Linked DNA regions of Homo sapiens. The protein of the gene in region 1 purifies or fractionates together with the protein of each later gene. This does not show direct contact. Each region holds a gene or a part of one and is shown on either strand. Other genes may lie near its edges.

Region 1 (5,549 bases):
AGAAAACTATCACATCCTCTGGCCTATCTTGTGAGTAATTTTCTGCCTTACTCTACAGAGAGTTCTTTGGAGAAGTTTCTCTCACTCATTCAATTGTCATTTATTGGTTCATCCTTTAATCTAACTCTGAGATTCCTGCCACATTCCCTCAATCAATCAATCAATCAATTACTAAGCCTTTTAAAATGTGTCAGGCCCCAGGCCCTAGAGATATACAGATAAGCAGCAGAGTTACTGATCCTCAAGGGCAGGAGCTTGACAGTCTGCAGGGGGAGGCATCCATGCAAGGAAGCTACTACAACATGGCGTAACTGCCAAGGGAGGAGGCTATGGGGAGAGAAGAAAGGATGTCAGGGAAAACTGTGCAGGAAAACTTTATGTCCAAGCTATGTTTGAAAGGAAAAGAGTGAGTTTCTTTGGAAAGAACAGGAAAAAGAGGTATTTCAGAAAGAGGAAACATCATCTATAAAAGCATGAAAATTTATGGAACTTCTAGTAGAACTTGCATTGATAAGAGTTAGAGAAAGAAGAAAAGAATATCCGATGATCAATAATTCTTGAGAGATGAGCCCAGGTCAGTTTACGACGGGCCTTTTGAGTCACAATTCCTTATACATAAGAAAATGTTTGCTTCACTGTCACCAACAATACCAAGTTTCATTTAAACTAAGAGACATCTAAGGAAAGATATCTATCTTTTCAACCCAGGACTCTTGCTAAACATAGTAATTGCCCATTGATACATGGATGAGATCATTACTAGAAAAGGAGAAAATACAAAACATCAAAAGAAATCAGAAATAAATATATTTAAGTCAGCCATAAAATATAGATTCCCTAATATCACTTATGTGTAGCTGAAATATTTCAATCCAGAACCCTAATTATTTGTACACACTAAGACTCACATAATTCAAAAGAAAAGATTTGACATTCAGGCTTATTTTTCTAAAACTTCTCATTTTTTGTTTTAATGCTTAATTGTTATGTATGTTTTAGAATATAAGATAGGAAATTAAAAGAAAAATCCCAAGCTTTTAAACTCTAGGTTCTTAGATAGAATGACTATATCTAGAAATAAATTGTGTAGGGTTCCTGAGGATTCCTATCAACTGAGGCTGACTGGCAGGTATGGCTAGTATTCTCATGAAATCCTCCCTTAAAATCTTGTTTGGGCAGTAACCTTAAAAATTTGGCAGTAGCTACACAAATTTGGTAAGCTCATAAATACATACCTGATAAGTTGATTTGCTTAAATTTTTTTATTTTTCAAATAGTTACACACTCTGTTATCATTGTAGCTATAAAATTAACAAAATAAACTGTCTTTTAATTAAAAGTTCACTGTTGAAAAACTCTGTACTTCACTTTTTATTAGTTCCTGTATTTTGCCATACTAACAAATTAAATGATATTCTAGATTTTTAAAAGATCTAAAAAGCCTACTTTACTTAAAAAATTTAAGACATTATAGCACTACCAAATTTGGGATTTTTGGCTACCATGAATTCTGAATAATTATTTTACAAATTGAGTTCCTGCTTAAGGAGAGAAAATATTTATTAGCACATCTGCATTTCAAAGCTCTTGTTTTGAGAACTCTTCTACATAACTAAATAGATTAAAGTAACATTGTTATACAGTCCGCATATTTTTATATTCATTTCTTTAGTAAGAATTATTTTCCACATTTACCTAGAAACTACAGCTTTCTATTTCATCAGGGAATGACAACACATTTTACCAATACGAGGAATCACATTTTTTTGGAAAGTACACCATATAATGTGTTTTGCTTTACAGCTCTTTTCGAAACTGGTAACTATATAGAGTGAAGTAAAAAGTGGAATCTATTTTCCTTTCCCAACTCTAAGACCTTCTATCTGGGCCAGACTTTGATATTTGCCCCTTGGCTGAGAATCCGCATATCCAACTTCACACTTAGCTGCAGTGAAGTAGCCCTGCAGGCAGGCCGACTTCAACGAACCACTAGTGGTATCATCATTAAAATCCTGCTGAAGGTCACCATGGTAACCGCCTGCTGAGGCTTCACTGCTGCACTCGGCATCTCCTAATCAGCTACCATGTGAAATGCAAATTCAGACAGTCTGAAAATTAGTCAAGAAGAATAGGGGATGAGGATGCAGATATGTGAAATATTCATGCGCTTCATGGAAAAAAGAAGACAGCATGAATGACACAACAAAGAAAGGCCCCTGACATTCTTGCTATCATTTTGCATTATTGTTCACACCCCACTGTATTTCCAGGCCTATAGTTCTGAAGTTGGTTTTGTGAAATGCCATATTTATAGTCTATACCCAAAATAGTAATTAAAAATGGCTAACATAATAGTATTAACATCAAATAAAGATAATACTTTTAAATTATCATCACTGCTCTGTAACAGTTTATTCTAATTACCTGAATACAAATGCTATGCAGAAAAAAACAGGCATCACTGATTATCAGTATCAAAACTACCAGAAGAAAAAGTGCCTATTATATTCTAGGAACACAAATGCTTTACATGTGGTGAAAATTCTTTAGAGATATTTATTATTCAAGTTACACGAACTCAAATTTCCTTACATAATACTAAGACCCTATGCTATTCGTTTCACAATAGAAAGACTGACATGATTACCTAATAAGTGAACATTATAATTGTTTTATATTTTTCCTTTTCTCCTTTCCATTTTCCTGAGGCAAAAAATCTGTTGCTCATGAGAAGGTGCGATGTCCTAACTCAACACACTATTTTCTCTGGGTAGGTCCCTGATGAGTATTCCATAAAGAGCTAATATGAAACATTTTAGTTGACCTGAGATACTGCTATTCTGCATACATCCTCCTTAAATATTCGTAAAATGATGATACGTTAGGCTAAAATGGGAGATGTTTTGTTCAATGAAAGACTGGACATAGGGTAGAGCCAAAACAACTCACTTCAATGGGTTACCAAAGCAAGCAAGCAAGCATTCAGACTCAGATCTTAATAAGGTAGCCTTCTAAGATTTTCAGCCACAACTAACACACTTTTTAAACATGTCTACAATGATAACCTCGAAACATTTCCCCAGTAGAATCTGAGTATAGCAGTGAGGTGATGATAGGACAGGTATTGTCAAAGGAGAGAAGGTAAAGCTTAAATAATAAGGCTCAGAGATATGTAGTTAAGAGATGCGTGTTTCGAGTTTTGGAAAACATGGACGAAAGGGAAGTTCTGCCAAAATAGAAAATTACAACTGTGTGCTGGTCTGGTCTGGGACTGTGAGAATAAGGAGTTAGCCCTGTTAGGAAGGGCCATCAGACATGATGATTAACTAGAGCCTAAGTATGAGCATTAATTCTGCCCTTTGCACGATTCAGTACACTGTAGAGTCAGCTACTATTCTTATCACACCTAGAAAGTGGCCAATTTTACACCACATGCTGTGTTGTGTTGCACTACACATTATCAATTGCAGAGTCAACTCTTTAGACAGCAAGTCTCCAAGAGAATGAAAACAGAATTAAAAAGTGCTAGTTCTGCTACCTATACCATTCATTTTCATTTTTGGATAAAGTAAAATTTCTTGGTAAAATAAAAATGTTAGCAAAATGGACAACAGAAGAACATGTGGGCTGAAAATGACTTACTTCTTCTGAATAGTGATCTGAAGGAAGAGGTGGGTAGTCACACTGTTCTATCTTCTTACACAGTGAGTATAAATTCATTTTGTCACCATAGAAAGGACTTTGTAATGCAGCCATCTGTAAAATGCCCCCAATGAAACTGATATAGTTAGATGGTAACTTAAAAGGTGATTTCATCAAGTATATTATACGGGGGTAGAAAATAATCACAAATATTTTAAATAGAGATACCTGGGCATTTTGATTTTTATGAATATCCCCTTCTGAGGAAATTTATTAAGAGTTAAAAATCTTACTGCAACTTTTGGTTATTTTTTTTCCAACATTTAAAATTCCCTAAAATAGAGAATTAGCATATTTCTTTATATACAAATGCAACATAAAACAATAAAGAAAAATAACACATAATTTAAAAACTCTTTGTACCTATAATGACACAAAAACAACTACTATATCTCACAACAAAACAGTCATCACAAGGTGTAGCTCAACCATACAGAACAAACATGAAACTGAAGTTAAAACTGAATTATAATCTAGCATAGGGAAGAGAATGCAGAGCATTTTCTCTTGCATAATAGTTTCTGAAGATAAAGGTTATTCTGAGAAAAAGCAGTCTTTTCAATTTAAATGCAATAACTGATCCCCAAATAGTTTACAATGAATTAGAACTCTTTTGATAATGTCTCAAAAACATTAAATTAAATATGTTCAAAAGCTCTATGAGTCATAGCTGTAATTCAAGGCTTCCAAATGAGATTTTTATGCAGAAAAACACGACCCAAAGGATGAACAACTTTAAAAAAGACATTATCGAATTTAAATTTATTTTAAGACAAGGTTCTAACTTGACATTTAAAGTGCAAGCAAGTACTGTGGTAAGCAGTGTTACAAACTAAAAATTCAATTTAAAATGTTCGCATCCTGTTCAAAACCTTCTAAATCTTTGAACCACAGCAGCAAGAATACAACACGGAGTGCCAGGCTGCCCCAAAGTCAGTCACCCTTTTCTACATGTGCTAATAAGTTTGATTTTGGAAGGACAATGTGTACATTCCCCAGACAGGCAGAGTGTGTGTGAAACACGCTAGTCCATGCTGTGCTACTCAGTGAGCGTCAGTGGGGACAGGACAAGCTGAAAATGGCTCTCATCTGTCTTCTGTGCTCCAGACAGAGCTTTAACTCCTTCAGAGCCTTGATGAGAAGGGGATGGGATTGGAAATCAAAACTGGAAAGTAGCTCAACACATTTTTATCTTGCCTATGTTTTACATAAAACGTGCACACAACTATATAGAAGTACCTTAGGAAGAGTTGTTTCACATGACGAGAAAAAAGTTAAAAACAATCTGAATGCCCCTAATCATATAAAACACTCTGAGAGGAAATTTCTAAAAGAACCACAATAATAATAATAATAATAATAATAATAATAATAGTGGTTTTTGTTTTAAATGCAAGGACACTTTAAGATCTTACCTTAAAAATACACTGTATATATAAACTATAGTCTCTCCGTGTTTGCAAAACCTTAAGTAAATGTACATATATTCATTATCATATTCTAGGCGTTCATTATAGTCCTTTTTCTCAGTACTGCAGAGTGTTAAAAAAAAAAAAAATCTGAATGTCCCCTAAGGAGTTAAACAGGAATAGTATATTTTCATGCATCTCCTGCTTTGACAGATGAAAAATGTCAACTGTCCTGTTTTTATTTTCAAGCTTTTGCACTATTCATCTGGTTCATTAGTGCATCTCGATGCTGCCCCTGACAGCTGCTCGCCCTCTCCTCCCAGCAGCTGAATTTTTCAGGCTAATTTGATCCTCCACACTGAGACGATCGCTAGAATGATTGACTTACTCCCTGACCTCCAGGGTCTGACTTTCCTGATTAGTATTCTGGGGGTGTCG
Region 2 (4,524 bases), on another chromosome or scaffold:
CCCCTCTCCTGGGGCCCAGACAGACATTACTGATCAATGATAGCACCCATTCCCAATAAGCCATGGTTACTCACTAAATCTTTCCTGACCCAGCCCTTAGGCAGTCACTTCCAATAGCCTGGAGGTGGCAGTGAACCCTATTTGCCACCCCTCATCTAATCAATCTCCTCATTGCACAGATTGAGAAATGGAGACCCAGACAGGATTGCTGACTTGCTTGAGGTCTTACAGTGAGACAGGGACAGATGGACACAGAGGCAGCTCCAGATTCCTAAGCGTCTACAATAGCATAATCTCCCTCCTCCTGCTCTGGTGATAACGTGAGAGGCATCAGGATCTCTATACCAGGGCCTGGGCCAGCTGCTCCTATAGCTGAGCCTCACCTAGAGAGGACAGGCACTACCTCCTGGGAACGCTTGTAACCCATGACCACTCAGAGGTTAATGAACAGCCACGAAGGGCATCTGTGAGGGCCTGCCTGTGGAAATGGCAGTAAGAGCAGGAATGAAGGGAGCTATGAGAACAACACAGTCAGGAAGGATGCAGAGCTTGAGCCAGCAATGGACACAAAAGGAGCGCCGAGTCTGCAGCCCTCAGAAGGCGCTACCACCCCATGCAGACTGGGGAGGTCAGCAGACAAGACCAGTGTGTTGTTTTGTTTTCTCAGGCATAAAGTAAGTTTGATTTCAAACAAGTAGAGCAGGATGTGGAAGATGAGAAATCCAAAGAGAAAGTCTCAGCTTGCAGTTACAAGCAGCCACCAGAGCTTGTTTCTGGTGTTTCCAGGAAGCTGGCAGGGCCTGTGGACTGCAGGGAGACCCCAGAGTGGCATGATCAGCAAATATCCTGCACAGTAAAGCAGAGGCTGCAAACGGATTCCTTGGGAAGAGAAGTGTTTGCTTTGGCCAGCTCAGTACTACATCATGCAGAATTTTCTAAAATTCCCTGTACTTATAAATTAAGATTCCATATCAAAATCTGGATTTCTATTTTTTCCTTTAAAAAAAAAAGAGAGAGAGATCTAGTAATATGGACCCACATTCCTTTTTGAGACAAGTTCTTGTTCTGTCGCCCAGGCTGGAGTGCAGTGACGTGATCTCAGCTCACTGCAACCACAGCCTACCAGGCTCAAGCTTTTTTCTTTTTTTTTGAGACGGAGTTTCGCTCTGTCGCCCAGGCTGGAGTGCAGTGGCGCGATCTCGACTCACTGCAAGCTCCGCCTCCCGGGTTCACGCCATTCTCCTGCCTCAGCCTCCCGTGTAGCTGGGACTACAGGCGTGCGCCACCATGCCCGGCTAATTTTTGTATTTTTAGTAGAGACGGGGTTTCACCGTGTTAGCCAGGATGGTCTCAATCTCCTGACCTCGTGATCCGCCCGTCTTGGCCTCTCAAAGTGCTGGGATTACAGGCGTGAGCCACCGTGCCCGGCCGCGTGGACCCACATTCTTACAAAGCAGCCACTGTTGCCACAACATGGTCACAGTCTCCCCAGTTTTTCCTGGTCCCCTTTGTTTCCTATTGCTCAATGCCAGCTCACCTGCCACCCCTGCAGGGACTCCCTAGCATAAACCAGCCTGGGTGCATAGGAGGCAGCAGGCTCCCCGCCAGCCCCCATCTCCCTAGCCCCCAAGCCCCTTTAAGACAGGAAAAGGCAAACCTTCAGTCCACCCTTGTCATCGGGCAGCACTGGGATGCTCCAGGGCTGTCGGACCTTCGAGTGGGGCAGGGGAGGCTGGTGGCTCGGCCGGCCTTTGTCTTTATTCACCTGCATGCAGACAGATGCCAGCAGTCGAACAAGTTCCGTGTCTATGGACACAAAAGGCATCATTTTACCTGCAAATATGTCTGTTGGGCCATAAGGAGAAGACTCAAGATGACCCCTGTTAGACTTAGAACTCAGCCCTGCAGCTCCAGGGTCTGTGTAATTCCAGAATCAAGGCACCTGCCTCTCCATCTGATCTTCAAAAGGTGGCAAACAAAGCCAGCAGGGCTTAACCTACTTAACCAGAAAGAAAAACCGGAAGTCCTCTCTCATGAGGAAGGCAGGGGGACAGTGTGTTTAAAAGTGCAGGCTTCACAGCCAGGCTGCAGAGGTTCAGATTCTGCTTCTGTCCCTCCCTGGCTGTGTAACTGCAGGTAAATTACAAAGCCTCTTTGTGCGTCTGTACAAGTCAGTGACATTAATACCCACCACATAAAGGTATCTTATCAATTCACGGGAATTCCTTTAGAGCAATACAAGTGCTTTAAAAATACTAAGTATTATGAAGTTATTAGGAACCCAACTCAGTTATATAAAAAAAGCATTGCAAAAAAGATTGAGAAGAAACTACTCCAAACTATTAACAATGCTTTTTCTTGATGACTATTTCTTTTTTTTTTTTTTTGGAGACAGAGTCTTGCTCTGTCACCCAGGCTGGAGTGCAGTGGCACAATCTTGGCTCACCGCAACCTCCACCTCCTAGGTTCAAGCGGTTCTTTGCCTCAGCCTCCCATGTAGCTGGGGCTACAGTGCCCGCCATCATGCCTGGCTAATTTTTGTATTTTTAGTAGAGATGGGGTTTCGTCATGTTGGCCAGGCTGGTCTCGAACCCCTGGCCTCAAGTGATCGACCCACCTCAGCCTCCCAAAGTGCTGGGATTATGGGCGTGAGCCATCCACGCCAGGTTATTTCTTTTTTCTCTCCAAGTATTCAATAATAGGCATGAGTTTCTTCAAAAGTTTTGTGTAAACACTTCATTTAAAAACCCAGTAGGCAAAATATTCCTAGGAATAGACTGTTTTATTGGGAAAGGGAATAAACGGCAGTGGAGGCTAGGGAGAAGAGGAACACTGAAAAGATGAGTTTCTCAGAAAAAGTGTGTATGAGATCCAGCGAGAGTGGCTGCGGACTGATTCCGAATAACAAACTCTTGGCAAGTGAAGAAGGTCTCCAATGAGGTGGAGTAGGATCACTGGACTTGGGGCACAGGACTCCAACCCTCTGGCTGGGACAGATCACTTCCCGAGTCTTGGCGACCTCATCTCTTCAAGAGGATGTGAACCTCTGCTTCCCCTCTCAGACCTCTTTGAGGGTCAAACAGAACCAAGTGTGCATCTGTGAAGTGCAGGGGCCTGCAGCAGGGAAGGGGTGGCAAGGGTGGCAGTGCTGTGACGAGGAAGGGCATGCCTGCTGGCTACCCCTCTAGCTAAGAGGGGCAGCAGGTGACTTGTGACTGCAGAGGTGAAAGTCTTCTCTCCCCACAGCCAACAGCTAGAATCCCAGCACAGGGTTCAAGCCCAGTGGGTCAGAAGGGCCTCGGGGCTTCTCTCTCTCTGGGTTGAAACTCCAGGTTGATAAGAAAGACGACAGATCAGAGACCTTTCCCCTTGAGCTGGCTAACTGGAAGCCCAGGTCCCAAAAGAGGGTCTGTCACAGCAGGGGAGGGTCAAAGGGGAGTAGCAGGTACCAGCCGAGGCCAAAATGGGGTGGAACTAACGGCTACATTCCCAGTACACGACCCTTGACCCTGCAGCCTCTACCTACACAATTAAGCTGAGAAGGCCATCGCTCTATCTCCCATTCTGCTTATCAAAGGGGACTTTATGTTTCCACCTGAGTGACTCAGGATTTCTGGCTGTGAAGCACAGATGCCATTCTAGGGTGTGTGTGGACTGCAAAGTCAGACACGTCTTATTTTCCTTCCCTCTCTAGAGACTCCTAGGAGGTTGGTGCTGGAGGAAGTCCCCGGGGCCACCTGGTCCAAGTCCAGCGCTTCACTGGGGAGGGAAGGAACTTGCCTAAGATCATGCAGTAAGCTCCTGACACTTGAGAGTGACTTTCCCCCACGAATAAGCAAGTGCTTAAAACACAAGTCACAGAGGAGGTGCCTGTCTTGACTCCCAGTCCAAGAAACGCTGGGTAGATTTACAACCCTTTTCTTGAAATTACCTACCGGGATCATTCAGCAGCATCACCAGGTCAAAGGCCGTGTATCCATTTTTTGCACGAAGAGTGACATCGGCCCCTTGGTTTAGCAGATATTTCACAATTTCCTTATTCCTGGGAAAAAATGCTAGAGTTACATTCACTGAAAGCAAAGGCATGGCTTTGCTCCTGGGCAACAAAACCAACATTAACTACAAAGCTCAGTCTCTGAGCATTTAAGAAGGACATGGAAGGGCAAACAGTCTCACATTCTCTCATTCCCTAGCACGTGGGCAGGTCAAGCGGGAACATGATTTAAATCAAAGTCTAAGTGTTCCTTCCAGGAACAAAATGAAGACTGAGGCTAGATGTGGTGGCTCACACCCGTAATCCCATCACTTTGGGAAGCCAAGGTGGGAGGATCACTTGAGCCCAGGAATTTGAGACCAGCCTGGGCAACATGGGGGGCCCTGTCTCTACTAAAAATTTTGTTTAAAAATTAGCTAGGTGTGGTGGTGCAAGTCTGTAGTTCCAGCTACTTGAGAGACTGAGGTTGGAGGATGCTTGAGTCTGGGAGGTCAAGGCAGCAGTGAGCCATGATCACGCTACTGCACTCC

The links. The genes of interacting proteins can lie anywhere in the genome.
Region 2: the proteins of NEK7 (region 1) and ANKS6 purify together in Homo sapiens (affinity purification with mass spectrometry; 3 studies listed by BioGRID and IntAct, with this or other methods). This does not show direct contact.

Annotation. Positions count from the first base shown.
Region 1 is NC_000001.11:198,295,334-198,300,882, reverse strand, and holds part of NEK7 (serine/threonine-protein kinase Nek7), read right to left. Parts: intron 3,757-5,549; coding exon 3,643-3,756; intron 1-3,642. UniProt on the Homo sapiens protein: Protein kinase which plays an important role in mitotic cell cycle progression. Required for microtubule nucleation activity of the centrosome, robust mitotic spindle formation and cytokinesis.
Region 2 is NC_000009.12:98,778,532-98,783,055, forward strand, and holds part of ANKS6 (ankyrin repeat and SAM domain-containing protein 6), read right to left. Parts: intron 4,043-4,524; coding exon 3,936-4,042; intron 1,807-3,935; coding exon 1,658-1,806; intron 1-1,657.